Regions from separate parts of the Homo sapiens genome. Here regions 1, 2 and 3 are each linked to region 4. The links come from fine-mapping of genetic effects on gene expression. A gene starts in region 4. Each other region holds a variant in brackets. All regions are shown on one strand. Distances are from middle to middle. Region 1 overlaps LINC02235 (long intergenic non-protein coding RNA 2235). Region 2 overlaps LINC02235 (long intergenic non-protein coding RNA 2235). Region 3 has its middle 61 kb from the start of FABP12. Region 4 holds the start of SNX16 (sorting nexin 16).

The links. PIP is the estimated chance that this variant, and not a neighbour inherited with it, causes the effect.
Region 1: its variant is fine-mapped to the expression of SNX16 in whole blood (TOPMed, PIP 0.96).
Region 2: its variant is fine-mapped to the expression of SNX16 in whole blood (TOPMed, PIP above 0.99).
Region 3: its variant is fine-mapped to the expression of SNX16 in whole blood (INTERVAL, PIP above 0.99).

What each region holds. Positions count from the first base shown.
Region 1 is chr8:81,885,712-81,893,821 of GRCh38, reverse strand. The region is part of intron 7 of LINC02235 (long intergenic non-protein coding RNA 2235); the gene reads right to left. Among named protein-coding and RNA genes, the nearest start is that of LINC02235, 47 kb to the right of the region's middle. The variant T/C (reference allele first, on the strand shown) is at 4,977.
Region 2 is chr8:81,908,584-81,916,693 of GRCh38, reverse strand. All of the region lies in intron 7 of LINC02235 (long intergenic non-protein coding RNA 2235), which reads right to left. Among named protein-coding and RNA genes, the nearest start is that of LINC02235, 70 kb to the right of the region's middle. The variant A/T (reference allele first, on the strand shown) is at 3,207.
Region 3 is chr8:81,590,778-81,598,887 of GRCh38, reverse strand. No RefSeq gene overlaps it. Among named protein-coding and RNA genes, the nearest start is that of FABP12, 61 kb to the right of the region's middle. The variant C/T (reference allele first, on the strand shown) is at 3,532.
Region 4 is chr8:81,838,274-81,846,383 of GRCh38, reverse strand. It overlaps SNX16 (sorting nexin 16), which reads left to right and starts at 4,199. Exons shown (of 8, transcript NM_152836.3): 1 at 4,199-4,262; 2 at 6,302-6,772. The coding sequence starts at 6,398. It overlaps LINC02235 (long intergenic non-protein coding RNA 2235), which reads right to left and starts at 3,765. Exons shown (of 8, transcript NR_170320.1): 1 at 3,713-3,765; 2 at 1,813-1,933. RefSeq lists enhancers at 3,515-3,784, 4,216-4,265, 4,193-5,125 and a silencer at 4,596-4,645.

The DNA of each region.
Region 1 (8,110 bases), 47 kb before region 4:
GTTGAACATTAGAAAATTATTTAATGTATCTGTACCTCTGTTTCTTCATCTATAGAGTGGAAATAATAATTATAATACCTTCTTCATAATGTTGCTTTAATAGTTAAATGAGTTAATACTTTCAAAGCACTTCAAATAGTGTCTGGCATACAAGCAAACCAGCATAAGTTAACATAAATATGATAGAATCATGGTATACTGCTACTAAATGTAACTTTAGATGTTGTTCATTTTATGTGTAAATTTAACACTTGTATGATGTTAAAAATACTTTTTATACCTGCTTTTGGGATTTTAGTATTTAAATTCTGAAAACAGCAAGAAACTTCTAAATATTTATTTATGATTTGATAATAAGCAGAATTTACTTAAAAGAGAGCTGCCATCCAATATAGAAATTGGTATTGTGACATTTCTGACACTGATATAAATATGAACTTTATGTTTCTAATGGAAACTATGCCTGCAATTCTCATATGATAACAGGTATGGGCAGTGATGTACCTACAGTTACCATCTTCTTGATTTTGAGCAAATTTTCTTATTCAAGCAATATTACTTTATCACTTCTATTTCAGACATTCTGCTAAGTATGGGCAAAAAATATTAATGAAACTGCTTTTATAGTATTTACTGTAGCAGAGGATAAGACATTAAAGAAGTCACACAAATGTGAAATTTCAATTGATATATATGAATTTGAACATATTAATTTAGGAATTTGACCTAGTCAGGAATTTTCTGTAAAGAAGAGATAAATAATAAGACTGAGTCCTAAAAGGTGAGAGAAAATTAACTAAATAGATGAAAGAAAACCATTCCTAAGAAAATAGCATGAGCAAAATCTCATGGAATGAAGTGAAGAGAGTAAGGTAAATGAGATCTTTAACAAAGCTGTCTAGTAGGTAGAGAACAGATCATGCAGAGATTACAAGGCCATGTTAAGGAGTTTTGCCCACATTCTATGACCAATGGAAAGCCATTGAAGGATTCAAACCAAGATGTGGAGAAGAGAAAAACATGACCCAGTTGACTTTTAAACAAGATCAGCCAGGCTGCAATGAGAAGATAAACTGATAGAGGAGTCAAGAGTTAACTATTAAATAAATCAGTTGGGAAGCTATTTCAACATGATGCTTCATCTAACAGGTGAGTGGTGGAGATGGAGAGAAGTATAAATTCAAGAGATACTTAGGTATCTTGATGATTCACCAGATGTGGAAGATGAGAAAGAAGGAGACATCAAAGATGATTTCTAAGTTTCCAACTTGTATAACTGAACCAGATTTGGGAAAAGAGGACCATTAATTTTTTTTTCTTGGTCATGTTGCATTTGAAATGCCTTTAAAATATTCAAGTGAATATATTAAATTGGCAGCAGGAAAATGTCTGATTATAAACATAATAAAGTAACTGGTACCAGACTATTCCTCCCATGGTAAATGACTGTAAAATTGGACAACACACATAGCGATATTGTCAGACATTAGTCAAAAGGCAGCACAAAACTCTGATCCCTGAGAAAGAGGAAACACACAAAGTAAGCCCCATAATTGGCCTGAATTTCTACAGGGGAAATCTTTCCAGACTATAATGCAGGGAGGCAAGTTAAGCAGAGCACAGCAGTATCATTGAGCTGAGGAAGCAAAAATCAATGTTTAAAGTTGCTAAGAAGGCTGAAGTATGTGGAACTGGCTACTGCAGACAAGGAAGCCATGAAGACAAAGACCTCACAAATCTATATAGGGGTCCTCTTACTACATTGGCTAAATTCTAAAGCTGTGCATGCACATGGTGAGACTCAGGAAGATGGTAGAGAACAACTGCTAGGTATTTGTGAAATAAAATGTATATCTTTGTGGTTTCAAATTGGTTGAAGAAATAGAAATTCTGACCAGCAACCATGGAAAGATCTTGCTAAAAACCCCAGGCGCTCAGTTGAGACTTCTTACAAAGGCCATAGCTTAGAAGCAGAACTACTCTAGCTATAGAAGAAGATCTACCCTAGACCTTTAATAAAGTTGATATAGCTTAAAAACAGGTTTCAAAGAATTATGATGATCCACCAGTAAATTTCCTGCCTGCCAGCTCAAAATCCAAACTTTTAAAGAAAAAAAATCATACTTTTATAAATATGTTTTACAATATCTAGTACACTATCAAAAATTACTAGATGTGAAGAAATAAGACCATAGCAGCAGAGGCTACTTTAAGATATCCCAGCAGCTAAACCTAAGCCCCAATGGTAAAGAAAAAGAATAAAAGCACAATGCACCCAAGACAGAGAAAAAAAAAAAAAAAAAAAGTAACAATAAGCATAAAAAGAAGAAGAGAAAGAACAAATAGAACATCAAAACTACTAGATCAGACAGCATCCAAAAATAAAGAACCTATGATTTAAATACCGTGAGATTTCTGTGAGTCAAAAATTACTAGATATTTTTCTTTAAAAAATTAAATAGTTTAATTGAAAGAATGGCCACTATTGATAACCCAATTAGTGTCTTTAAAGATCCAGAGGAAAACATATCTCAAAAGAAAAAAAAATTTATGGAGAAGTTAATCATAAGGAAAAAGGAAAAAATAGATCTAAAATATCTAATAAATAAATCATGAAATTTCAGGGAAAAAGTAACAAAGAAAAAATTAAAGACATTATAATGAAAAAAATTTGTGATTTTAAAAAATGTTTTGAATCTGTACGTTTAAGGTTCTTACTGAGGTTCAGGAAGATTTTACAAGACATACAGTAGGGCATACATGGCAATAATGGAATTTGAAGGTGTAGTATGCTGAATAATGACCCACAAAGATGGCAATTCCTAATCCCTGGCACCTGTGAATGTTACTTTGAATAGTAAAGTCTGCAGGTGTGATTAAATTGAGAATCTTGATGTGAGATTTATCCTGAATTATCTGGATAGGGCCTAAATGCCATCATATGTGTGTATAAGAGAGCATCAGATAGATACTACACACAGAAGAAAAGGCCAAGTGACCACAGAGACAGAGATTGGAGTGATGTCCAGTCTCAAGGAATGCCAGCAGCCATCAGAGCCTGGAAAACAAGATTTATTCTGAAGGCTATTCATTGCTCGTCTATTTTAATAATCCCCTAAACATTTAAAGCAAATGTCTGTAGCACATTCAGGAGCTGGCAGAGGCAAAGGGTGGAATCCCCCCTAGAGCCTCTAGAGGGAGTGCACCTCTGCCAACACCTTGATTTCGGCCAGGTGATACAGATTTCAGCCTTCTATTCTCCAGAACTGTAAGAGAATAATTTTTTTGTTGTTTAAGCCACCCTATTTATGATAATTTATTACAGCAACCACAGAACACTAACACAGAAGGTAAAGAGAAAATTTTACAAGTTTTCAAGGAGCAAAAACAAGTTACTCAAGATTGAAAATAAATGAAAAAATATAATTCCATAAGAATGAAGAAAACAGGAGAGTAGAGAACAACAAACAAGAGCTGTCAAAATTATCATGAAAGATATGAAACATAATCATGGTACAATCTACATGTAGTTCAGTGGTCAAAATATTCTAAAGATTGATAGTGAAAACCAAAAATAGTGATAAAACTACATTGAGAGGCAGTAGGAAGGGGAAGTCATGTAAATAAGATCCATCCTTAACTACAATAACAGAAGCCAATAGATACCTAAAATTAATAAAACAAAAGCTAGCAGCAGAAGCAGATTCTTTAGAAATAGTGGAAATTATACAGATGCAAAGAAGCGCGTGCAGCTCTCCTCTAAAGGGCAGGATCTGGGGTGGAGAAGAGCGGGGTAGAAAGCTACTGTGTTTGCTATAAGTTTTTAAACTGATTTTTCCTTACGTACATGTACTGGATTGATTAAAATTCAAACATAAGAACACAATTACCACAAATAACAAGAAGCTACTGTCTTCTGGCTCGTCACAGTAATTGAGGCCTCCCTTCTCTTTCTCGATTCTAGGGGGAAATAAGCCAATGGGTCATTAGCTCATTGTGACAGCCTTAAGAGACAGGAACCTGCAAGATCCTGACAGAGAGAAGTCTTTGGAAAGGCAGTAGGGGAAATGCTTCGAAAGGTCTGAGCTCTATTCACCAACTGGGCTGCTACAATTGGTATTACGCATTCATCAGAATGGACCTTTCTCCAACTGTCCCAGGACTGAAAAGATATCGATCCTGGCTACTCATGGCCTAGGAGGAACCACACTGGAGCTGCCCAAGCTCCAGGGATAGAATATTCTATCACCGAGGGTTTTCTGCTCTGAAGCCAAAAGTGGAAGAATGAGACCTGAAAAACTATTCAGTCTTAGCTTTTCCTATTATGGGCTTGTGCCCACTAAATAGGATGTTTTTGTTTGTTTGTTCAAGTGCCCAATACTAAAGGGGGTATCGATTTATTTGAACTAGGCAAGTAGACTAAAGTGAAGTGCAGTAAGTGATGGTTAATCAATAGAGTCAGCCTTCAGAAGCTATTCTGCAACACTCCAGAGTAACTGTTTGCTATTCACAAAGTCTCACTGGAGAGTTTCTTCAGCTTCTGACCATCACAGCCTGCTTGGCACTTCCCAGATCTCTCTTACAGTTATCATTCTGTCAGTCTTTTAAACATGGCCATTCAAACCCAGTCCATAGACCTGCAGATAAATATCAAACTGCTGGCTTTATTCTCAGCTCCTTCTCTTTCAAATGCAACACACACATACATACATACACACATACATATACACACACATACGTACATCAGTTAGTACAAACAAATACTAGAGAGGTGTTTTCCTCATTACCGCTTTTGGAGTTCAGCTTGATGAATTCAAAATATATGTGGCATGAGCAAATGAGAAATAAAGAGACAAAGAAGTGCCCTGTCAAGTACAGTAGCAAATATACATAGGGCTTACTACGTGTCAGGCACTTGGGACCTATAAGTAACCTATATTAACTTATTTAATTATCACAATTGCATGAGATAGTTA[T/C]TTTCATAATCCTCATTTAAGACATAGAAATCAAGAGATAAAAGATTTAACTTGCTCAAGGTTGCACAGGTAGTAAGCAACAGAAGAGGGATTTGAACTCAGGCGATCTGGCTCTAGAGTCTGTGTTCTTCACCACAATACAATAATGCCACTCAAGCCATATTTAGGTTCTTAACGTGATAGACTGTGCACGCTTGGTTTCTCTCTAGTTGTTCCTAGCACAATGTGATTATACCATTGGCTCACAAATAAAAGTGTCTAATAAAATCTGCTCAGGGGCATGGGTAATTTCCATAACATCAAGCTACCTTGAAGGTTTTCAAGGATTGGTGTCATCCAGTGTGATGTCATTATCAAGGACAAGAATATTGTTACAGCTAGCTGGTGATGCTGCCTCTCCCTTTCTGGAAAAATACGAGTTAATCTGAGGCCCAACAGACCTTTGCCTGGTTTGCCTGTGGAATAATCCAATTCTGACTCAAGGGCAGGTTTTGGTTGAAAAATACAGTTATGGCTTTGTGGAATTAGGGAAATGATAACGTTTCTTGATTTGTTGACTACTAGAGTCATGAGAAGTGAAAAAGTACGGTGAATCTGAGATTACATGCTCAGAGAAGATGGTACAGTGTTTATGACTAAGCCTGACAGAAAACTGGGGAAGATGGGAAAACTTGTAAACAATGATGAGTAAATCTGCTTTGGCTATACTGAGACTGTCAACAAAGACATCTGTTAGCTTAGTAGCTCTGTGAGCTATCAGTCAAGTGTTTATTGACTGCTTCTCGGGAAGATGCTCAGTGGTAAACATTCTATGAAGACAATCACATTATATAAATGCCATCAAACATGTTGGAGAGATTTCCAGCTAACCTCGCCTGAGTACATCTGAGCAGTTCATTAACATCCGGAGAAACATCCAGATCTGAAACTCGTTATTTTAAATCTTTCCAAAGTGAGACACTCAATAAAAAGATCCCAAAATAAAATATGTTTTCTAGTATTTTGATAAATCAACAGTGCTGTGTTTTTCACAACCATCTGATTCTAGCCAGGATTTTAATGCAGCAGTTTGAGCAAACTTGGGAGCAATAATTTATTTCATTTTCTTGAGAATGCACATTGATTTCCTACATAGAAGCTCCGTAGTTCATTTGATTATTTCTAAGTAATCAGGAGCACCATTTTAAACTAGACTACCCTTTTTTCATAGTCTAGTCTAAACTCTCTTTAGGATGCAAAGATTTAATTTCTATTAGTAAGAAAACAATCACTTGTATTTTATATGCATAAATAAAAAAATGTCTCTCAAATATTGGTTATATTATAGGCTAATGTCTCCATTTATAGAATAATTTACTGCATATACTACAGTTACATACTTTATGCAATAAGGTATTGATTTTCAAACTGCTTTTCCAATGCCCAGAGTTCTAGAGTATTGAGCCTTGTTGGGTGGAAAAAAAGGAGAGAACTAAGTGGCCAAGAAAATTGGACTCTGGGTCCACCAGCATCATTCTAATCAATTTTTCAATCTATTCCTAAGTTGCAGTTTTACATATGATATTATTTGGCAAAAATACTTTCTGGCTAAAAATATATAAACCACCACTAATGGAATTTTGTTATAAAAAATTGAAAACTCATTTCCAGTCTTCACTCTTTACAAAAGATTATTATGTTTAGTGGTTTGCAATATGCTTCAATTATTCTCAGCTAATGGTTTATGTAATGTAATATTAAGTAAAATCTCAACTGTAATCAAGAATGACAAAATATTTGAGTCACAATTTAAGATAATATACTCTCAATCTGAAAAAAAGATAAATATTTAGATACTTTTTTCTCAAATAAGTATATTACCTTTCACAATAATTATCAAAATGGGGGGGAGGTTCTTTTTTTTTTAACACCTATCAACAATCATTCTTAGTTACTTGCACTTAAATTGACTATTTCTCTCTAAAATATTCTACTATCTCCACTAGTTTATGTTTCTATTCTTCCACATGAATAAAAATGAAATTATATAATATGCCTGAAGTTCAATAATTTAATTTTACATTAATCCGTTTGCAGTATTCCTAAATTTATTTGAAGTGTTATGTTATCATACAGAAAATTTTTCCACCTTTATAATGAAAACTATTTCAATAATTTTATTGATTCTTCACAATCTATTTCAAGTTATATAGGTAAGAAATATTCAAAACCTCCTAATACAATTTCCTCATAAATGTCAGTGTGTGACCAAGTAGAAAGTACATATACATGAGAATCATTTTGTGCAAAATTAAGTTACAGATTCTCTATTATTCTTCACCATCTTCTTAAATTAAGACAAACTAATAAATTCATATTACTGAATGGAGACTGAAATTATTTTACCTAACACACTTGTTTATTGTTTAGCATAAAAAAGGTAAAGGCCCTACAAAGAGAAATTACTTCCTATTTAATAGTAATATTGTGACCAAAACAAAGTCTTCTATCTAAAGGCCTTTCAACGACATCATCTTGGAAATCAATATTATAAGCAATAGTATGTACATATAGGTATATATGTATAATAAGGAATTGTAGCTGCATGTCTAAATAGGCTTCCTTGAATTCCTCCCCAAGAAATTAAAACAATAATTAAAACACATAGTACACATTCAATTTACAAGTTTTTACAAGATTCTAAAAATAAGTTGTCATTAACATTCAAATTAAAAATAACAAGCATTAAGGCAGTAAATGGTATATAGGAACTAAGGTTGCTTATGCCATGCAAATTTTCCCATTTGTGGAAGGTCTTTCAGTTGGGACAAAATGAAGAGAGAGACAAACAGCTTCTTGGCTTCCCTTTGCCACTGGCTGCACAAGGCACTAGCTCTTTCCTGTGGCACTCCTGGATCTCTTAACTTTCCCAGGGTTTTGGTTATAGGAGTCATTTCTTTTCTTTTATTTTAGAGATAAGTTATCACTATGTTGCCCAGGCTAGCTTCGAGCTCCTCGGCTCAAGTGATCCTCCTGACTCAGCCTCCCGAGTAGCTGGGACCATAGGCATATGCCACTGCAACCAGCTTTTTTATGTAGCAGTCATTTCTAGCTTTCAGAAAATGTGCATCTGCATCATGGGTGCATTCTCATTT
Region 2 (8,110 bases), 70 kb before region 4:
TTTGAGACCCAGAGCAGAATAATGGGTTTTGGAGGGGTTGTGGAGGGAGGTATTGAGGATAGGAGAGTATATGGGTTTGGCACCACGGGGTGGATAGGCAAGACAATTTGGTTGATAAGGCACAGATCCTGAACTAACCTGTAAGGCTTGTCCAGTTTTTGGACAGGTAAAATGGGGGAATTGTAAGGAGAGTTAATAGGCTTTAAAAGGCCATGCTGTAACAGGCGAGTGATAACAGGCTTTAATCCTTTTAAAGCGTGCTGCGGGATGGGATATTGGTGTTGAGTGTGGTAAGGGTGATTAGGTTTTAATGGGATAGTAATGGATGTGTGATCGGTTACCAGGGAGGGAGTAGAGGTGTCCTATACTTGTGGGTTAAGCTGGGGGGATATGAGAGGAAGATGTGAAGGAGGCTTTGGGTTGGGAAGAAGGGTGGCAATGAGATGTGGCTGTAGTCCAGGAATACTCATGGAAGCAGATAATTTGGTTAAAATATCTCGGCCTAATAAGGGAACTGGGCAGGTGGGAATAACTAAAAAAGAGTGCATAAAAGAATATTGTCCAAGTTGGCACAAGAGTGGGGGAGTTTTAAGGGGTTTTGAAGCTTGACTGTCAATACCTACAACAGTTATGGGGGCAAGGGAAACATGCCTTTGAAAAGAAGGTAATGTGGAGTGGGTAGCCTCCGTATTGATTAAACAGGGGATGGACTTACCCTCCACTGTAAGAGTTACCTAAAGTGTCTGTGATGTTCCAGGAGGCTTTCTAGGCAATTGGGCAGCATCAGTCTTCAGCCGCTAAGCTGAGAAGATCTGGGAAGGAGTCAGTCAGAGAGCCTTGGGCCAGAGTTCCAGAGGCTGCTAGGCGAGTTGGACAGTCCGATTTCCAGTGGGATCCCACACAGATGGGACATGGCTTAGGAGGAATCCTGGGCTGGGGGCATTCCTTGGCCCAGTGGCCAGATTTCTGGCACTTGAATTAAGATCCAGGGGGAGGAGGTCCTGAAGGAAGCCCTGACCACTGTGGCTTAGGCGTTTTGAAGTTCTTGTGTGCTGGAGATGTGGCTGGAGTTTCTCTCACAGTGGAAGCAAGGAATTGCAACTCAGAAATACATTGCTACTTGGCTGTCTCTATTATTGTACACCTTGAAGGCAAGGTTAATTAAGTCCTGTGGTGGGGTTTGAGGGCTGGAATCTAATTTTTGGAGCTTTTTTTTTTTTATGTCAGGAGCTGACTGGGTAACAAAATGCATATTGAGAATAAGATGGACTTCTGGCCCTTCTGGGTCTAGGGCTGTAAAGCATCTCAGGATTGCTGCCAAACGGGCCATGAACCAGGCTGGGTTTTTCATATTTGATGAAAAAGAGCCTAAACACTAACTGATTTGGGAGAGGTCAAATAAAGAAAATGGAGCATTAACCTTGGCTATGCCTTCAGCTCTAGCCACCTCTTTAAGAGGAAATTGTTGGGCAGGTGGGGGAGGGCTAGTTGTGGAACAAAACTGTAAGCCAGACTGGGTGTGGGGAGAGGAGGTGATAGAAGGATTACAGGGTGGAGGAGCAGAATCTGAGGAAGAATTGGAGTCTGATTCAGCCTGGTGGGGAGTGACCTGAGGAGCAGTCTGGGGATGAGGGGAGAGGTCAGATGGATCGGTAGAAAAGGAAGATTGAAAAGACTCAGCAATGCTTGGGGTTGGGACTGAGGGCACAGGCAGGAGGGAAAGAAGGAGGATTTGGGACGAAACGCATTGGGAACAGAGACTAGGGAGGGACCGATGTGTAAAAGAATGCCTGGACGTCAGACACCTCAGACCATTTGCCCATTTTACAACAAGAATTATCTAGATCTTGTAGGATGGAAAAATCAAAAGTGCCATTTTCTGGCTATTTGGAACTATTGTTGGGTTTGTATTGGGGTCAAGAGGCATTTCAGAAGAAAATAAGGCATTTAGGTTTAGGTCAGGTGTGAGTTGAAGAGGTTTTAAGTTTTGAGAACACAGGCTAAGGGAGAAGAGGGAGGAATGGAGGGTGGAAGTTTGCCCATAGTGAAGGAGGCAAGCCCAGAGAAAAGAAAGGGTAGAGACATGGAGAGAAGTGGTGGGGGGTGCTTGCCCCCCAGGAAAGTGGAGAGAAAAGAGAGGGTAGAGACAAGGAGAGAAGGAATTTCACAAGGTAATGTCATCAGTTAAGGCAGGAACCAGCCATTTTCATGTCTTTTGTGATTCTTCACTTTCTTCAGGCCATCTGGATGTATACGTGGAGGCTTGGGCTCAGAGGCCTGGCACTGCTGATCATCAGTTTCAGGTTTTTCTGTTTATTGGGAGACTGCCTTTCCCTGGCACTGGCTGTGACCAATTATTATTTTAGAGAGGCAGTTTAACAACTACCTGACCATCACCTGATGGTTGCCTGACATTTCTGGTGGGATGGGGAGCCTCTCTTGCCCTGCTTATTTATGACTAGTTACCTACCATAATAATAGCAATGATATCAACTATGAATTACATGTATTGAATATTTATTATGTGCCAGGTATTTTGCCTCTACTATCTCAATTAAACCTCAAAGAATCCTCATTTTATAGATTTTTAAACCAATACTTAGAAAGGATATCTAAATTGTTCATACCTAGCAAGTGATAGGATAGGGATTTAAACCAAGGCAGTCTGATTCCAAAGCCACCATGTTTAAGCAAGCTGCTACACAGCTCAAAACAAAGATTTATGCATAAAAGAGTAAGAGTGGCAGGTAGATTTTACTAGAGCTGAGCTCAAATATATAAACCAGGCATCAAAAGAAAAGGATGATTATTGGTCCTACAAAGAAAAATAAGGAAAGGGTAATTAACGATCTGTTGGACCAGTACTAAATAGAATTCAAAGGTGCCTTAATCCCTTCTGGAAACATTCTCTAAAACTCAAGATTGATACAGGAGGTAGTTAGGCATAAACCACAATTAACCAGTGCATGGGAAAGGCAAAACTAAGGGTTTTAGGGAAGTTGAAACTTTGCCTCTGAAAATTTGAGTCTAAGTCTGCTGAAATTATTTGACAATTTTGAAAATAAACACAATTTAAAAGCTGTTGGAACCCCCAAAACACTTTAAGCCTTAAGAAAGATGTGACTGTGATCTGAGTCACATATGGTTACAACTTCTATTTCTCAGATTATAAATTAACTCACTTTCTTATTTATCTTTTTCTTCAC[A/T]GTGACTAGACAGAATTAAATGATATCAGGGACACAAACCTCTGCCTTTTAGTGACCCTTGTTACAGATTAATTTCTCATTTGTTGTCCTGCTTTGCTTAGACCAGATGACAGAAAACCCATGACTATTATGCCTTCCGTAAAAAGTGTTAAATATACCCTTCCCCAAAAGAAAAACCATCTGTAACCAATCACATTGCTGTAATTATGCTCTAGCCTTGTATGTAAAATGTTGTAATCCTGCTAAAACTCATCTCCCTCTGCCTATCTAAATGAAACCTAAACTTTCCTACTTCTGAATTCTAATTCCATCCCTTAGAAGTTGGTATTTCCAAGAAGGCTATCCTTAAATTCTGCACTTGAATAAACTCTCTTTAAATTAGATTCTGACTCTTTTGATTATTTTAGGTTGGCACAATAGATTATCAGGAGAAAAACAAAACTCATTGTATGCATAGGCATGGGGACCACACACAAAAGTATGAGACTCAAAGAAATCTCACATTTCTTTGAGAGTACTGAAGTTTTAATACCATATGGAAAGGAATAGAGGCTTGGAACATGGAGATCAGTTATGGGAGGGAGAGGGGAGGAATTGCATATCAAGCAAAAAGTATCTTGTTATGCAAATGAAATCTCTCAGGTAGCAGCTCTCAGATTAGATAATAGCCTATAGTGAAAGTTTCTCTGTTAGAACTTCAAAAGTGTCTCTTTTTCCTAAGTTAATCTTTCCTAGATCAAGATAATGTAGATAAGGTCTCAGAGAAATCCTGTTCGCATCTACTGTTTACTTCGCTAATGTAGATTTCCTCTACAGATGTAAATCTCCTCCACAAAAGGACAACTCTTCAGAACTATTCCTTTGTCTGTAGCCCCTCTGAATATCCATCTCAAAATATGCCAAAAAAGTATATTTTGGGGTGAGATACTCTACTTTCCTTCAGGGTGAACATATTTTAAGAGTTTACTTGTAAGTCATGGACATAAACGTGGAAATAATAGACACCGGGGACTCCAAAAGGAAGGAGGGTGGGAGTAAGGGTGAGGATTGAAAACTTACCTGCGGGTTACAATGCCCACTATTTGAGTAATGGGTACACTAGAAGGCCAGTCCCCACTAGTAGGCAATGTACCCATGTAACAATCATAAATATGTACTCCTTGAATCTAAAACTAAAAATTAAAAGTTTAAAAAAGAGTTTACTTATAAGTGATTTAAATTTTTATTAAGCATATTTTAATAAAAATAAATTTAAATCAATTCCCATAATGAATAAAGTATTAAAAAAAGAAAAGGAATATGAAAACCTACATGAATCAAAAAAGATTGACATAGAGATTTGCATGGAAAATGGGGGTGATGGAATCATGTGGTTCAATATTATATTGGTTTCAATGGGCCATTAATATTCATTTTTATGTTCAAATTGACATTTGTTTTCCTCTTTTCTATAATTTTTATGGTGGCAATTACATATTCCATATCTGCTGACCCATGAATCAGATATCCAATGAGACCCTCAGTAGTCTGATCCAAGAAAGGAATTATCTGGCCTTTTGAGGAATAGAGAGTAGAATCGACCTGACTGAAAATGACTCAAGATTCTACCACACCTGGTCTATATTGAGATATGGGTTTTAGGACCCTTTAGAATTGAAATACCATCTTCTTGGAGAATTTCATTTCCAAGTTTTGTGAATGTTAAATATAATGAACCCCAAGTTACTCTTCATATGTTCAGCTCTGTTATTCTTTTATTCTCCATTTTAAAGTTTAACTTCCTGGTTCTGTTCGCTCCCTTGCTTCTAATTTCAGTAAACAACTTTCCCACCAGTCCTAATTAGTAGTTCACATCTGTTCCCTGGTCACCTGCTCCATCCTGACTCATCCTGATCAGCTGCTTTGACCTAAGTCACTCCTGGTCACCTGCTCTGACCTAAGTCACCTCTAGTTACCTGTTCCTAAACGTCCTTCCCACCAAACTACTCACCCCACCACTCTGGCTCATACCCCTGACCTCTTTAAAATAGCCAATCAGAATTAGCTTAGACTGTGCCATCCAACCGTAGCCAATAGGGGAACAACACAGCAGTAGGGGCTACCTGCATCAGGAATAAGAACTCTTTCCCCTCCCCTGTCCAGGTATGCTCTTGCCATTACTCCATTCACAAGTCGCACCCTTCTATAGAAGTAAAAATTGCCTTGCTGAGAGAATTAAATTTATGTTCGAGTGCTATTTCTTTGCAGCACCAAGAAACAAGCATTTTGCATTTCTAACATGAATACATTTAAATATTAAATTTATAAATAGATGGATTGGTGGAAAAGTAGATAAGTGGCTTTCTCAGAGAACTCGTGAATATGCAATGTAAACTATGATGTGAGAAACTTAGTATAATCAAAAAGAATGAATTAAATTCAAATTTTTATCCAAAATAATACACTTTTGAGATTCCATCAGTAAATTGTTTGCCAAAATTACATAGGCCAAATGTAATATTCTATAAGACATTTCATGGCTTGTAACTTTGTGTGTAAAAACAACTCTTTAACTCTCTTATTCTCTAATTTGGCTCAATTTTTCTAAAGTTTCTCTTTTATATGGCCATTCAACGCAGCATGATTGCTGCATATAATATAATATGACAAGATTGCCCATTAACTTGTTTTCTAAAATACCCTTAAGTAACTGAGTTAATACAATATTTAGAATGGAGCAATCAGGTGGGAAATCTTGCTCTTAACTGTAGCGACTGCTGAGCACATAGATTACAGCAGTCTCCCTTCAGCCTTTTATTCATGAGCCTTCAATGACAATTTGTTCCTCCAGGAATCTAGTGCTCCAAATCAAACAAAAATTTTAAAGACAATGTTTTCTTCTTTAGAAAACAAATTTTAAAATATAATAAAGAGAATTATTCTGCTTGCTTTTTCTTCCTGTGTCTATGAAAACGTTCATACCAGTCTCCATTAACTGCTGAAGTGTGAAATGTATTCAGAACTTTAAAATTAATGTAGTTAACGTATGTTATTTCAGAAGAGAGTTTTTGTAAATGTTGGTCTTTTAAACCTCAATTTTTTCTTATCTAGTAAAGTGAAAATGTAGGATATACTGTTAAATGACATTTCTCTAACTACAACTTAAAGAATCAATTTTTTATCAATAGATCATAAATATTTGTATCTACCAGACATTATATATCGTTTACAACAGAATCTCCTGAGTAGTTACTATTTAATGCAAATTTCTAAGCTGTTGTCTAGATTTACTGAATCAGAATTTCTGGATATCAGGCAAGGTAAACTACATTTTAATTAGTCTCCCAAAGGTTCTTTGGACATATTAAAATTTGAAAGTGTTTGAATTATAGATTCCATAATTCCTCATCTGGATTCCTGGACTTATTTACTGAAGCTTTGTGCAGTGAAAAATACATGTATTTCTACCATATACATACATATGACAAATAAGTTACCAAAATATAATATTCAGATTTTAAATGTAGACTCATTATTTATAATATATTTTTATTTTCAAATATATAAGCCATAATGAATGAGATTTAAGGGAAATTTGATTTTTATTATTGTTAATGGTATTTTATTATTGTTAATGGTATGTGTATCAACCTTAGACCCAGAGCCAGATCAATGAAGTCATTACTTATTTATTCTTTAAATAATCTTATGCCAATCCTTCTACTAAGTGCTGGAGATACAAACATGTATTACACATAGTCCTTCTAGCATTAAACAAAAAAGACTGAAAAACAGATCTCAGCAATATAATGGCTTAATGCAGCACTAGAGATATGCAAAAGTATTTCTGGAAGCACCAAAGAGTACAACTATCTCTTGTTGGGTGGAAAATGAATGGAAAGTATAAAGAAAGGTTCCTTGGAGATGACACATGGGTTGGAACTTAAAAGTAGGAATTAGGTTGCATAGGATGAGAGTTAGAAGCATTCTAGGCACAGACTGTAGAATGAACAGAGATATAGAGATAAGAAATAGCATGGTATGTGCGATAAACTGAGTCATGTAGTGAACTGAAGAGAAAACGGAATGTCAGGAAATGGTTTAGATTTGAAACTTGAAAGACAGGCAAAAGCTAGATCATTAAATGCATAGTGAGAGATGTAAATTGTCTTGGACTTTAAATAATTTTTATTCTGCTTTTCCCTTCTCTGGGACTGAAAATACACATTTGATAGACTACTTGATATTGTCCCAAAAGTTCACTGAGACTGTGAAAGGAAAATAAAATTTTGGGACACCAAACTCACTATATCAAAGGGAAGTTCAGCTTGGGAACAGAGTCACACAAAATCTACCTTCCTTTTTGTTTCTAAACAGATAACTACAAAGATAGGAAGCCACATATCTCTCTAGATGGCTTCCTTCATAAATTCCTTCCAAGAGAATGGCTTATGGACAACAAAATCTTTACCCTAAAACATAATTTTGTTGAATTTCATCCATGTCCCTGCAAAGGACATGATCTCATTCCTTTTTGTGGCTGCACAGTATTCCATGGTATATTTGTGCCACATTTTGTTTATTCAGTCTATCATTGATGGGCATTTGGGTTGGATCCATGTCTTTGCTATTGTAAATAGTGCTGCAATAAACATACGTATGCATGTGTCTTTATAGTAGAATGATTTATATTCCTTTGGGTATATACCCAATAATGGGATTGCTGGGTCAAATGGTATTTCTGGTTCTAGATCCTTGACGAATCACTATACTATCTTCTACGATGGTTGAACTAATTTACATTCCCACCAACAGTTTAAAAGCATTACTATTTATCCACAGCCTTGCCAGCATCTATTGTTTCCTGACTTTTTAATAATCACCATTCTAACTGGCATGGTTTTGATTTGCATTTCTCTGATGAT
Region 3 (8,110 bases), 250 kb after region 4:
TCACACTGAACCCACCCACACATGTCTAACTTCCACTTGTATATTACCTACATATTTGGTCTTACCTTCCCTGTGACTTCCTTCAAGAAGCCTTTCCTGACAACCCAAGGGTGGGTTTATTTCCTCTCCTGAGTCTTCTGCATTTCTTCATTCAGACCACTTACCACACTATGTTATAATTGCATTTTGCCTGTAAGGACATGACTATAAACACTGTGGAGGCAGTGTTTTGCTCATTCTTGTACTCTAATTATCTGGCACAGTGCTTGGCAAATACCAAGTTCTTATAAATACTTGTTGAATAAATGAATGAAATCTTAATATCTAATAGCATCTCTCTTATGCTATTTTATACTCAGGTTTGAGGGCCATAATTTTATGCGCACCTGCAAATAATAGATAGTCTAAAAGTAGTCCAGATTTTCTCCTTTTCACATAAAGGACCAGCTCATATAATACTTGATTTGTTAAAAAACAAAACAAAGCAAAACAAAACCCCATGAAGCACCCCAAAATCTTGCAGTCATTTCAGATCAAACTGACAGATATGAGATGTGAAAAATATAATAAAACAAATATTTTCTGCTATAAAACTGAAATGAAGGAAATTTAAATGATTATGTAAAATGCATCTATATTGACAACTTTATCATACTGAGAAATTTGGATGATTTTAGCCCACTAAAAACAAACTTCACTAAAGTGGGCTAAAGACTGTTTTAGCCCACTAAAACAGTCTTCACGAAGAGCAATCCCCATAGTGGGGATTTACTCAGTCCCTTCCATTCAGGCTCTCTCTGCCTCCTCCCTCCATCACAACTAAAGCCCTGAAGGAGAATAAACTTTAAAGACAAGATTAATTAGATTACACTCCTTCAAAACCACATTATAGTTTGTAGATCAGCCTCGGTGCTGACCTGAAGCTTGTATGCTTTGCTGGGATAGTTACTAAGGGGTTCTTACCTTTTTGCTTGGTATAAAGTTGACACTGAGTAGTTATAAAGTCCTTTTTAGTTCCTATCCTGGGTCAAGCCAATTTGGCAAAAATCAAGTTCCTGGGAAACACTATTATATAGTTTGCCCTCATTTCCACTTTCACCAAATCTCAATATAATTACTTTTACAAAGCTCTGTGAAAGCCTATTTGAATGTTATTGTAAGCAGCAGCCAGTGACCTCTGAAACTCATTTTGCATCACTGTAAGAATGTTCATTGTATCTCACAAGGTTCTCTTTGTTACTCCCTAGAAGAAAGTTCACTATGATTTTAAGATTTTAATATAAAAAAAAACTGTTCTTTTCCCGAGTCCTTATGTGTTCATCTCCAAGGTCAATGGGAACTTGCTTAAATTATACATTCTAGGAGCCTACCACAGAGCTACAGAATTTGAAATTATGGTTATCATTTTATAAGCTCTTCAGGTGACTCAGATGCACACAAAACTTTGGGAATCTCTCTTATAGACCAGAATTATGTAATTGACTAGGTTTCTCTTCAAATGTGGCCACTGGAAAACTTATAGACAAATTTGTGATTCCCTGGTAGCAATTGTGTGGAGCATTATGCTTTTTAGTTATTTCTCTGTCTGCTGTGTTTTCATCTTTGATTTGTTTTTATTTCTATTTTTATCTCACTTCTAATTTAAGTTCTTGTTATGTTATATATCCATATAGCCATCTAAAATGATTTTTTGAAACAGGGCAAGAAACAGGCAGGTAGATAGCCAGACAAATAGAAAAATAATGATTACACTCAGCTTCTGTAGAGAACAAGGTATTCTTGGCAATTGGTGCAGAGTAAGCACCCTTGGCAGACCTGGAGAAAGCTGTGTGTGTGTGTGTGTGTGTGTGTGTGTGTATGCTCACTTGTGCTGGAAGTATGGAGGAGGAGGTTGTGCATATGTACTAGAGAAATACAGTACTTGTTGATCAGTGAATGACTTTTTTATTTTACTGTCATAAAGCAACTATATGTCCTATTTTCTCTTTATTAAACTCATGGTACCAGCTAGAAAACTTCTGAAACAGTGGCTTGGATGTTTGGTGAGACAACTTTTCCCCATTTGTGACTTTTCTTGCTTGGGCATAAACCTTTCCTCCTTAATCACTGTCTTGTATTCATTACTTGCTAGCTAATCACCATAAAGCCACTAATTTATAGGAGCTTTAAAGAATGATTCTCAGAATTACTGGCAGTGAAGGCTACCCCTAGATTGTTTTGAAATGTTTCCATAAGGGAAAATTCGTTCTAGCCTTTCTATCTGTACCGCAACCTCCCTGCCTGTGAGAATCACTACAAATGGAGTTAAGTCAGGAAATTGTACCACATCGGGACTGGGGACGGTCTGATTTATCTGTCTGATGATTGGCCATGTGTTACAGCTGGAAAATACAGATTTTCTTATTTTGTTTTACTCTCCCCAGTCATTTCCATGAGGAACCTCCAGTGAGACCAAAATTTGAGACCTCTCAGCTAAATGACTCCCAGAAGCCATTAGAGGACGCAGTGTAGTGCCACTTTCTGCCTTGGAAACCAGGATTGAGGTTTTTGGGCGTCATTGCATTTACTGTGTTTTCACTTTTTTAAATACTTACTTGTCACATGCCTTCATCTTTTCTGAAACATAATGACAGCTAGGCTTCATCATACCAACAGCAGCTTTATAATAATTGGGCAAGAATTGGGCCATTTTCATCCAGCTGAAACCCAAGTCTGACTAATTTAATGGGGAAATATCCTTTAGTGCTCCATCAATCAGCACAGGGCTTGCCAAACTGCTTCTAAATTCTGAGGTAAGTATTAAGCAAAGGGACCCACCTAAAGACAAATTCCTTCAGTTCAACCAAGCTTCTGAGCACCTGTTTTCTGGAGGTATGGGCAGGGCATTGCAGGGGTCTGGAGATGAGAAGGCTGAGTGCTCCCCCTCTGGATAATTATAGTTAATAAGAGGAGCATTTAGTGAGTACCTGGTAGTTAATATACATGATTTAATTTAATTTGAAAAAGTTGAGCATTACTCCCTTCTCACAAATAAGAAAAAAATAAGTCTAGAATGGATAAGGAAACTACTCCTGACTATGCAGATAGGTGTTAGAATTAGGATTCAAAGCACCTGCTTTTTCCTGTGTAAACAAAAAGGTATCTGAGATATGTCTCAATCAATTTAGAAGTTTATTTTGCCAAAGTTAAGGACATGCACCTGGGTGACAGGTCTGTGCCTTTCTTCAAAGATGATTTTGAGAGCTTCAATATTTAAAGGGGGAAGGGTAGTGGAGAAAGGGGAAAAATATTTAAAAGGTGTGAGTAGATAAGAGGCAAATGGTTGCATTCTTTTGAATCTTTGATCAGCCTTTCACATGTGAGAGGTGGGCAGAAGAATAGTCACTTTGTTTTTTTTTGAGATGGAGTCTTGCTCTGTCGCCCAGGCTGGAGTGCAGTGGCGCGATCTCGGCTCACTGCAAGCTCCGCCTCCCGGGTTCACGCCATTCTCCTGCCTCAGCCTCCCGAGTAGCTGGGACTACAGGCGCCCAC[C/T]ACCGCGCCCGGCTAATTTTGTTTTGTATTTTTAGTAGAGACGGGGTTTCACCGTGTTAGCCAGGATGGTCTTGATCTCCTGACCTCGTGATCTGCCCGCCTCGGCCTCCCAAAGTGCTGGGATTACAGGCGTGAGCCACCGCGCCCGGCCAGAATAGTCACTTTTGCATTTATCTGACTCAGTGAACCTGCATTTTTACATAAGATAAAATAAACACAGGGCAAAGGAAGCAATCAGATATGCATTTGTCTCAGTTGAGCTGAGGGATGACTTTGAGTTCTATCCTTTCTCCCGTATCTATCAATTTACATTGTCAGTGTGAAATTCGACAGAACTGTTTTAGGGTAAGGATCTTGGGGACCACAAGGAATCTCCTAGTGAGAAAATTGTGAGAGAGGTATGTAGCTTTTAAAAATCTTTGTAGCCATCTTATTTAGGAATTAAATGGGAGGCAGCTTTGCCTGTTACGCAGTTCCCAGCTTGACTTTTCCCTTTGGCTTAGTGATTTAGTGGTCCTGAGACTTATTTTCTCTTCACGCCTCATTGCTGTACCACATCCAGCATGGGGGTGTGTGGGTATAGGGGGAAGAAGACACATAAATTAATGTGTCTTATTAATAAATAAAACATTATAAATTAATAAAAATTATATTAATAACCCTAATACCAAGAAAAAAAATAAGGAAGGTTTGATGAAATTAGACAACAATGTGTGATAAAGATTTGGAGGGAAAACTCCCAGGAGGAATTGGAAATACTTTGTGGAAAAGTTGGCTTTTGAACTTGAAGGCCTTAAAGAATGGATGAAATCCAGAAAGATAGAGATGTGACTGGCATATCATGAAGAAGAAATAGTATAAGAAAACCCTGGGAGACAGGGAAAGACTGATTAGTTTAGGGAAGGGCGAGAACTCTGGTTTAGGGAGCATGCACTTAGGTTTAAGAACATATTGGGAGACACCCTATTGCACAGGGTCCTGGATGCCAGGCTGGGCTGCTCAAGGCTGTTGAACAGCAGAGAGATTAATGGCAACTTGCACACCGGATTCAGAGATTGATGAATGGCAGCATGCAGACAGAAGTGTATTCAGAAATAATAGAAGCCAGTTAAAAGGCTTTTATAATAGTCCAAGAAATGATGAATGAGGGCAACTTGACTGTGGGCAGCAGGAACTCACAGGACAGGGACAGATCAAAAATCCTTGGTAGAGATATCATCCATGGGATTTTGGCAATCATTAGGGACATTGTGGTGCAGGAGCAGATTTGGAGATGAGTTCTTTTTGGCACATGCTGAGCTTCAAGTAAGAGTAGGAAATTAAGGTAGAGATATCCAGAGGGCAGCTGGAATCGCCAACTGAGTGTGGGAAGGAGAATTAGGAAGACAGAGTTGTCTGCTGAGAGGTGATAGTTAACACTGTAGGACAGGTGTTTGCACTAAAGCAGAAAGATGAAATCAGAGACGAAGGATCCTCAGAGCATCTACTTAGTGTGAATCTAGCCTCTTGAAGAAAGGTTTATCAAAGAGGTTGTTACATGCAAAATAAAAATAGTGACTCTAAGAGCATTTTAACCTACCAGAAACTGATATCTTGACCTCTCTAATTAAGATGTTTGTTGTCAGTTATCACCCTAATCTGACTGGAGAAAACAATCAGGGTGAGATGAAGAAAGAACTGCAGAGAATCAATTGGCAAGCTTATCTTTCAAAACTCCGTGTACAGAAAAAGCTTGACAAGGAGGGAAGAACCACTTCTGTGAATTTAATGAGGTTTGGATGACAGGCTGGGCCTCTTGATTTGCAATATTCAGGATCACCCTGTTTTGGTTTTTGTTTTGTTTTGTTTTTTAAAACTGTTGTCCTAAAATAAGCCCTTTTTCATTTGTTCTTTTTGGTTTGTTTTACTGTGCATTGTGTAATGTGAGCAGACAATGATAATTCCTCTTTAAAATTCAAACATAAAGAGTAGGTTAAGAGAGATCCACCATAAAACCTGTTCCTGCACCTAGTAATTTTTTCTGCTTGTTCTAGCACTGGAAGTTGATCCTGCCTTTTTACCTAGTGATTACCCAGGCAGTGCTACAACCTGAACAAATATTTATTGTAGCCAGAAAACACTTCAAATGGTAAGACAACTCTTTCAATATTTACTATTCTGCAATTGGCCAGAACGCTAATGACTTTTAAACACACCAAGAAAGATTAATAGATTTGAATGATAGCTATGACACTCTCAAGTTACTTGGTTAGTGGCAAGTAATGGTATAGAGCATATAATGATTGATGAAATAACTACTATAGAATAACAAAATAGTACCATGCAAACGGGCTCCTTTATACTGGCATTAGATTCTACTCACAGCAGGTTTTGCTGCACATGCAAGGGCAGCTCATTTCTGTCCAGCTCATATAACAACTTCCTTGATAAATCTTTCCCCAATAGGTTGGATCCACACTAAGAAGATCCTCTAAGGAAAAATTGTTTCTAAATCATCTTATCCTCCTGCCTTTCTGCAGTCACCTCTTCTACAATGTCAACTATCATCTCTCAGCAGATAACTCTTAATCTTCCTAATTCTCCCTTCCCAAACTCAGGTGGCTCTTCCAGCTGCCCTCTGGGCATCTCTACCTGGACTTCCTATACTTGCTTAAAGTTCATCATGTCCCCAAAAGAACTCATTCCCACATCTGGTCCTGCATCACCATCTCTTTAATCATTGCCAAATTCCAATAGATGATATCTCTAGCGGGTTTTGAATCTATTCCTCTCTGGTAAGTTCCTGCTGCCCACAGCAGAATAGGCCCTTTCAGGGGAATACATTCCTCCAAAAGTTGAAGGCACCTTTAGCTTCTCCCTGATTCTTCTAGTGGTAAAACCCAGGAGAGTTGGCAAATGAGAACCTGTTTAACCCCTTTCCCATTCTCCCTGAGAGTAATTGCCAGTGGCGCTGACAGCTGCAGCATTTACTCCGAGATAACTTCCATGAAGTATCTCACTTTTATTATTATTTTCACATCTCTCTAGTATAGTGACTTTGGAAGCAAAATCCATCATTCTATTTATAGCATTCTGTTTTTAGAGGTGGTATTTCCATGTACAAAATACAGTAATTCTCATTCACTGAAAATGTCAAATCCTAAAAAAACATGGTATTCCTACCGTTGTTCTTGAACAGTTGTTGGCCAAAGATTCATTTGATGAATCAGATTTTTCCAAAATAGTTTTAATGATTCAGACAGTTTTCATATTAGTTCTGTTTAGAGATAATTCAAAGAACAATTTTTACATTGTATTTTCATGTTGAAAATCAGTGAGATTTGCTTCAGCCTCAAAGAGCAAGTTTATGTAAAATAAAATGAGCACTGGCAGCGAGCTGCACTTTTTTTTTTTTCTAAACAGGAAAAGGGCTAAAGATTTAAAAATCTTCCACAGAATCAGATCTCACTTATGTTAGACTCATTTTCTTCACCTACTCTTTAAGAAAATGGAGTCGACATATAGCTCTGAAATAATTCAACTGAGCCATCCAGGAAGGGGTTGCTTTCTGTTTTCTGGACACTCATGCAGGCAGTGGAGACATCGGTGAGAAGGGCTTTGCTGTCAAATAGTCCAGAGTTTGACTCTTTGTTCATTTATTTCATTATCCTTAAGTCATTTAACCAGGTGTTTCTGGAGAACCCAGTGGAAGGTTTCAGGTGCTAGGGTTATAATGATGTTAGTTGGAGAAGCAGACAATTAAAAAAAGCATAACACAATGAAAATCAAGACAGGGCCACTCAGAATTACTGGGTTGTCTGTAATTGACCACATGGTCAGAGAAGTTCCTGAGGTGTTCTGGTCCGTCAGTTTCTGTGTGATCTTGGGCAAGTTTCTTAGCTTCTCAGTTTTCAAACATGACTGTTGGAAAGACTCAATTTAATAATAATTGCAAACAACTAAGTACATAGTCTGGCATGTAGAAAGCACATGATGATAACAATCTAATATTGTTTTAAGTTTCCCAAAGACAGGATTTCAAATTGTTTTGTTCACTCACTGCTGTATCTCCAGGGCATGGAACCGTGCCTGACACATCGCAGGTATCCAATAAATATTTATTAGCTGAATGACTTCAAGGATGAAGAGAACCATAATGGAAATAAAATACAACAATGCAGATGAAATTAAACCACAAAGAAGTTCAACATTGCTTGCTGGAGCCTTGATAAATTGAATCTAACAAAGTCTAGCTTTTGGGGAATCCAAAACAAAAACCAAAAAAAACTCAGTCTGCTCCTCCCATCTTTATCCACTAGAGGGAGGCTATTACTTAACATAAGTCAGTGTTTCCCAAGCTCAGATGAAGCTGTTTTAAAATGATGAGTTAGTGGAACAATGATGAGATCTAATGGCCTGTCCTGCACATTTTTATTTAAGTAGATGGTTAAAATAAATAGTCTCAGGCTGGGAGGGGTGGCTCACGCTTGTAATCCCAGCACTTTTGGAGGCCGAGGTGGGCGGATCACCTGAGGTCATGCGTTTGAGACCAGCCTGGCAAACAAGGTGAAACCTCATCTCTACTAAAAATACAAATATT
Region 4 (8,110 bases):
AAACATTTTGCATCCCCTGGCACCTAAGCCAGGAGGGTATATGGATCCACCACCAATGGGTGGACGGGGATAACAGTGTGATAAATTATTCTGAAATCCTGTACTAGCAGGTATTCCCTCAAGGGCTTTAGAATGGTTAAGATGGGGGTGTTTCAGGGAGAATTGCAGGTTTTTAAGAGCTCATGGGTAAGCAATATCTCAACTATGGATGCCAGGCCTTTTCTTGCTTCCAGCTTAAATGGGTATTGTTTTCAATTGGGGCAATAGCTGGGGTCTTTAAACTGGTATTTTGACTGGCACTGCTGTTTTAGCTTTCCCTGGTGATATGGTTTGGCTGTGTCTCCACCCAAATCTCATCTTGAATTCCCACATGTTATAGGAGACACCCAGTGGGAGGTAATTGAATCATAGGGGAAGGTCTTTCCCTTGCTGTTCTCATGATCATGAACAAGCCTCACAAGATCTGAGAGTTTTATAAGAGGGAGTTTGCCTGCACAACCTCTCTCTTTGCCTACTACCATCCACGTAGGATGTGACTTGCTCCTCCCTTGCCTTCCACCATGATTGGAGGCCTCCCCAGCTATATGGAACTGCAAGTCCATTAAATTTCTTTCTTTTGTAAATCATCCAGTCTCGAGTTTGTCCTTATCAGCAGTGTGAAAATGGACTAATACACCTGGCTTCCCAGCATAACATGCTAGCAGGTTAACCTGTTTATTAATGTGGTCTGGGATATTGTCTGTATTTTTGACTATTAGCAATTTTACTGGGTAATGCTTAAATTTGTAGTAGTGCCCCTATTTTAATGATAATATCGCTTCCCAACAGGTGGACAAGGCAGCTTGGAACTACTAAAGATTTATGTTGGAACATTTGTTTCTCAAACTGACAAAGGAGAAGTAAAGAATCTCGTTTGTGGCTTTCCTTCCATTCCCGGAACACTCTTAGACTGGGAGGAAAGTTTTCCTGCATAAGCAGTAAGGACAGAGTAATTCGCCCCTGTATTGGAAAAAAAAAACTGAATTTGGGTACCCATGACATCTAGTTACCCAGGGCTCTGCAATAGTAATTATGATGTTCCTGGACAGGGGCAGTGAGGAAGACTCTAGGCCCCTTCAGTCTTCATCTAATTCCTCCTTTCACACTGCTAGACTTTTGCCTAACTGAGCCCCTTGGTGGGAGCGGGTGCAGTCAATCCTCTAGTGCCAGAGACCCCTCTTAGTACATTAGACGTCTCTGACCTTAGATTGGTGCCACCACCACTTTGGAATGATTCCAACCACCACTGATGACCCACTGTGAGTTTTCCCTCTTGTCCCTGGATGAAGGTCTCTACTTCTAGAATTAACTTTCAGACAAACCTTTGGATTTTTTTTCCTATCACACTTAAAACAATTCTTTAACTTTCTAAATTTGGACAAGATTAAATTGTACATAGATTCCCTTTCATGAATCCCCTCCATGAGTTACACAGACCACAATATGCCCAAACTCTGTGACTTATCCTTAGCCAGTCAAGTAGGGGGACGGAAGAATTTAACATAAGGAAAGAAGGCTTAAGCCACCTGAAACATGTGTGAATTTTCCCTGGACAGGCTGCCACTGCCAATTGCATCACTCATAGGCATCAGGGACTACAACTGGAAAAGACAGAAAAGAGTCCTTCCCCTTTCTGGGCAAGGCAGCTATCCCCATTCACTCCTGGGCCTTCAGTTAACACCAGAGAGTGGCCCCAGTTGCCTTCAGTTACCAAGGAGCTACTAGGAAATGGCCACTGAAAGACTGAAAAAGAAAAGAACTCAGGTTCCTCACCTGAACCAGGTGGTGGCAGTCAGGTGCTTCCACATGGACCTTTTAGTTTCACCAGAGAGTGGCCCTGGCCAGAAACCTGCAGTTGCCTCCATGCTTAGGCACTGTCCATCAAGGATCCCAGCTTGGAAAGGAAAAGGGAGAGAGAGAAAGAGGAAAAAGAAAAATACAAATCCCAAACTTTGGGCTTACCTTCTGGCTGGCTCACCAAAATATGTTACCAATTGAGGGTAGTTGTCCAGGTTCTTGGTGTTTTGAACGAAGAATTGGACAGAACACACAAACAAGGCATGGAAAGCAGAGATTTATTTTAAATGAAAGTATACTCCACAGAAGGAAAACAGACTCAGTCAAGGGGTTCAAGAGCATCAGCTACAGAATTTTCTGGGGCTTAAATACCCTCTAGAGGGTTCCCATTGGCCTATGCCCAGTCTGATTGGTTGTGGAAGGAGACCAATCAGAGTGAAAAGTAGGCCCTCAACCAGTCTGATTGGTTGAGGGAGGGGCTCTATCAGAGGTTCTTTCATTTTTCAACTGCCACCCAAAGAAAGGAGGGTTGCAACTGCCACGCAGCAACTGCCACGCAGAAAAAAGAGGGGTTGAAAATGGAGTCGCCTCTGATATCAGTCAGCATGAATCAGCCTTAGGTCCCCTGTTTCCAGACCCTATTCTCCTACCTAACATTGTTTCTACAGAATTCTATTTTTATTTCATTCACACTAAAAGGGCAGAATCTCTTAAACCAAAACCATCATCATGTCACAAACCAGACTATTTTCCAACCTTCATTTCAAAATGACCACTATCACCTTTTCTCACTCTTAGTCGGGCAGTAGAATAGGGTCCGGAGGCAGGGAACCTAAGGCCCATTCACGCTGACTTCCTAGAACTAAATCAAAAGGAAAACTCCAACTTTCCAAGCCCAAGTAACAAAAAGACCAGAGGCTATTCCCTTTGCAACCCCCTGCCCAACCTTCTAGGCCCTTGGTATCTGGGCCTAGTCTTCATTTCCATAGGAGTACAACTTTGTAACTTAACTTTAGCCTCTGATTGGTTGCAGGCTACTCCTTAATTTACAGAGGGTGTAAACCAAGTAACCAATGGGAAATCTCTAGCGGATATTTAAACTCCAGAAAATCCTGTAACCAGGGCTCTTGAGCCACTGGCTGGAGGCCATTCCCACTCTGTGGAGTGTACAGTCATTTCAATCTCTGCTTTCCTTGCTTCATTCTTTCCTTGCTTTCTTTGTGCGTTTTGTCCAATTCTTTGTTAAAAAAACCAAGAACCTGGATGACTTGTAGTCAAGACCCTCCATGGGTAACATTGGGACTATACAAAAGCCTTAGAAATCGTGGAATGATTTTTCAACCACATTATCTGATTCTAATGATGAACAGACCTGTAGACCGGTCTGAATCTTGGGATTTGCCTATCAAAAAACTCGGCTTTCCCTACTGCACAGGTCTTCAGAAGCGCATGTCTAACAAGGCTAATATTCCATCATCGGGATCAAATTGCTCACCGGATAGTAAAAAGACACTACAGAATTTCAGGGGTTCTCTGCCAATGAGAACTTCTGAATTATGTAGAACGGATCAGCTACTAAGCAGTGTTCTATCTTCCTACTCTTCTAATCGATTGTCATCCCTTAAAGCGCTGCTAATTCTAGAAAACAATCTATAACCTGTTAGAATCAGCGCAAGCTGGTGATGACTACAAGTCCCATGATGCAAAGTATGAGCACGGACCAATGTTGGTCGCAGTTCCTTCTGGGAATTGTAGTCTTCTCCTGTTTGGCAAACTAGGTATTGTAGCCTCCATTTCTCAGAAGTTCAGTTGGAAAACTAAAGATAGTGCAGAGAATGTCGATTTCCTGCCACAAGATTACATTTATCTTCGCTACCTGAGCGCCCAGCCGATCAACTCCAGTCGCTCCTCCGGTGGGCGGGCGCCCATGCCGTGACATCACTTCCGGCAGAGATGTGTGTGTGACGCTCTCTCTCTCTCTCTCTCGCTCTCGCTCTCTCCCTCGCTCGTTTTCTTTCTCTTTCTCTCTCTCTCTCTCTCTCTCTCTCTCTCTCTCTCTCTCTCTCTCTCTCTCTCTCTGTCTCTCGCTCTTGCCCTCTCTCTCTCTCTTTCTCTCTGTCTCTGTCTCTCTCTCTCTCTCTCTCTCTCTCTCTCTCTCTCTCTCCCTCCCTCCCTCCCTCCCTCCCTCTCTCTCTCTCTCTCTCCCCCCCCCCCCCCCCCCGCCCAGTTCGGCCCCTCCTTCCACACAGCAGGGATCTTGGGCCCGGGCAGAGACTGGCTGAGGCGGGGAGCAGCTGCTTTTGGGGCGGGGGTGTCACGTGAGGCTTCTCGCTGCTGAGGGAGGAGGCGAAAAGCTGCGGTTAAGGAGAGTCCGGTTTAACCGTCACCGGGAAGCGCGCTCGTTCGGGATCGCCGAGGGGGCTGAGGTAAAGACTGGGTCATTACCTCAGGACAGGCGGTCGCTGTCCCGGGTTCTCGTACGGGTGACACCTGCAACCTTGATGTCTGGCGGGCGGCAAGGGGCTCCGCGGGAGAGTGGAGAGGCGCCGCAGGAAGCCCAGCCACCTTCAGGCCACCGCCGACCCCACTGTGCGTCTGGGAGGCGCTGGGCGCGCACCGGTCAGCGGAGGCGGGAGAGTCTGTGATCCCAGGGAGCTGCGGGTCTCGCCGCCTGCAGTGCGGAAGACCCGTGACCGGCGCAGACCCCGGCCTTACCTTCCGAGGGTCGAACTGTGCCTGGTATTTGCCTCTTTCCTCCCGCCCACGGGGTTGCTCAGAGTCGGGCCACCTCACCTGAGGTTTTCCAGAGTGAGAATGAACTGAGCGTCCTGGGAGCAACTCCGCATCAGGGTAGAGGCGAAGACGCTCCTAATGAGCACAGCACGTTTTTTTGTTTGTTTGTTTGCTTGTTTTGTTTTTTTAACGCTTGGGTAGCGCTCACATCTTCGGACGTCAGTGGTTGTGTTGATATGTATTGATATGCGACCTCCCCCCAGCCAGGCGGCCTCAGGTAGTAGAGTGGCAAAGGCCAGGTAGATCCCTCGGACCTTGAGAAGGTTGAGATTTCAGACTTACTTGTTTTTGGGGAGGCCGTCAGGCGGAACCGAGGAGCGGTGAATCAGCAGCTAAAGTTTCATGAATCTTTGATAATGGGGAAATGTTGCCGAGAGCCACTTGAGTTAAAAATCTTTTTTTTTTTTTTTTTTGAGACGGAGTTTTCCTCTTGTAGCCCAGGCTGGAGTGCAATGGCACGATCTCGGCAAACTGCAACCTCCGCCTCCCGGGTTCAAGCGATTCTCCTGCCTCAGCCTCCCAAGTAGCTGGGATTATAGGCCTGCGCCACCATGCCCGGCTAATTTTTGTATTTTTAGTAGAGACGGGGTTTCACCATGTTGGCCAGGCTAGCCTCGAACTCCTGACCTCAGGCGATCCACCCGCTTCATCCTCCCAAAGTGCTGGGATTACAGGCGTGAGCCACAGCGCCCAGCCCAGAGTTAAAAATCTTATTTCAGCATCTTTCCAAGTCCAGGTGACTCATTTCTTACCTTTCCCACCAGTAGAGTTTCGTATGAAAAGTTGGGCAGTTATTGTTGTGTGTAGTCTTGTCATTTTGTTGGTCTGTAGTTGTTACAGTTTCTTATGAGTTTATTATTTAACAAAGTAATAGTAAACCATTTCTTCTTTGTGTTATGATACTATTCTGACACAAGATATACTGGTCCGTTTGATAACAGATTCTTGAGTGTAAGTTATAAAGATTTAAATACCCTCAGTTTATCGTAGAGCAGAATTAGTGATGACCTGTAAGCTGTGAAGAACGGTTACAATTTTCACTATTTAATTTTGTTGCATATAAGTTCAGTGTTCACTGGGTTTTATTTGAGTAACTTGACCAAGTGTGTATTTTTAATCCTGGGTTCTATAGAATTATACTATGTAGCATCAAAGCATCTGGTTCATTGTTACTACTCTGTGTAAATCTTTATAGTTTCACTAATTAAATTGAAAGGTAATGTGAATAGATTTCCTCCCTTTCTGATTAAATCCAGAGGTAATGTAAATAGTTTTCTTCCTTTTCTTTTTTCTCTCTTGTACTGAATGTAGTACTGTCAAGATGATAAGCATGGAATAAAGCTTCAGAAGGGTCTTTACCAATCTTTCTCCTACCAACTTTTACATACATGAAATCAGGTTAAAATGAACTTTACAGAAATACTTCACAAGGGAATAAAGTAGAGGAAAAAGGGATAACATGTAACATGGAGTCAAGGAAAAAGAGTGTGAAGTAGTTTTGCTCTCTCTATCTTGCAAATAGGAGTCCTTAAAGACAACTGGGAGAAGGGGTTTGAGGTATGTTTTCATTCCAAATAAAATAATAGTGTCATAAAATTGAAAAGAATACTTTTCTTTTGAATCCTGCTGCACATTAAAGACTAACCTTTTAATATGTCCTTTTCATTTTTAGATAGTGAATTCCTAAGAAGAAAATAATGGATTGCATATTAGTTGTTCTCTAAGTGGACTCAACAGTGTGCAAGCTTGTTGGAAAAGCCAAAAGAAGATGGCAACTCCTTATGTCCCAGTTCCTATGCCCATAGGAAACTCTGCTTCCAGTTTTACAACAAACAGAAATCAAAGAAGTTCTTCTTTTGGCAGTGTCTCAACAAGCTCAAATTCTTCTAAGGGCCAGTTAGAAGACTCAAATATGGGTAATTTTAAACAGACAAGTGTTCCTGATCAAATGGATAATACTTCATCTGTCTGTAGCAGTCCCCTCATTAGGACTAAATTTACAGGTACAGCTTCTTCCATTGAGTATTCTACTAGACCAAGAGACACTGAAGAACAAAATCCGGAAACAGTGAATTGGGAAGATAGACCATCTACACCTACTATACTGGGTTATGAAGTGATGGAAGAAAGAGCTAAATTTACTGTAAGTATTGACTTCTGCTGTATAACACTACAAAGTGAAAGATTGGCTAATCTCTGTGTTCAAACCAGTGTTAAATTAATGTAAACTTGTACTTATAATTTCTTGAATATGAAATTCTAATGGTTTTTACACCACTGAATTCTATCATGTTGTAGTAAACTTTTGCTTTACCTTAATAAATTTTCACAAACCAGACACACCTATGTAACTATTAATAGCACATAAATCAAGGAAAAGAACGTTACTAGAATCTTAAATGCTCTAGGTTCTCTGCCAGTCAGGACCCATTCACCCAATACTTTTGTATAGCCTAGATTAATTTTGCCTATTTTTGTACTTTATCTAAATGGAATTATATACTCTTTTTGCATCTGGTCTCTTTTCTTTAGCCTTGCCAAATTACATGCCCAGCTTTAAAAGATATTGGTGAACAGTGTTTCAGAATGGTTGTACTGATTTATACTCCTAAAAGCAGCATATAAGAGTTCCAGTTGATCCATAGCTTCCTAACATGTGATATTTTAACATTTTTATCATTTCAGCTGTTCTCATGGGTACAGAGTAATATCACATTGGTTGTGGTTTTAATTTGAATTTTCTTAATGACTAATTGAATTTAAAATTTTTTTGGGCTGTTTGGATATTCTCTTGTGAAATATCTGTGCATGATTTTTGTTCATTTTTCTTTTGGGAAGTCTCCCTTTTGATTTGTAGTTTTCTGTGCACTTTGGATATAATTTTTTTTTCAGATACATGTATTATGACTATCCTCTCACTCTGTGGTTTGCCTTTTCAATTCCTTAATAATACATTTGATAAACAAAAGTTCTTAATTTTAATTTGGCTTGATTTATTACTTTTTTTAATGGCTAGCACTTTTTGAAATCTTTGCCTACTCCAAGGCTACAAAGATACTGTCCTATGTTTTCTTCTAAAATCTTTATTGTTGGACCTTTCACATTTAGATTCGTAAACCACCAGAATTGATTTTTGTCCATGGTGTGAGGTGAGGGTCAAGTCTTTTTTTTTTTTTTTTTCCAGATGGGACCAATTAATCAGGCTTTTATTTGAAAGACCACTCTCTCTCCTCTTCATTTTCAGTGTTGTCTGTGTCATAAATCATGTGACCATAAATGCATGGGTCTGCTTCTGTGTTCTATTTTTTCATCCTTTACTAATTTCACACTGTCTTAATTAATAAAGTCTTATAATAGGTCTTGATATGTAGCAGTGTATGTACTTTAGCTTTTTTCTTCAGGATGGCCTTGGCTATTCTTCACCCTTTGCATTGAGATTTTGTTAGATCTATAGATTAATCTGGGGAGAACTGACATCTTT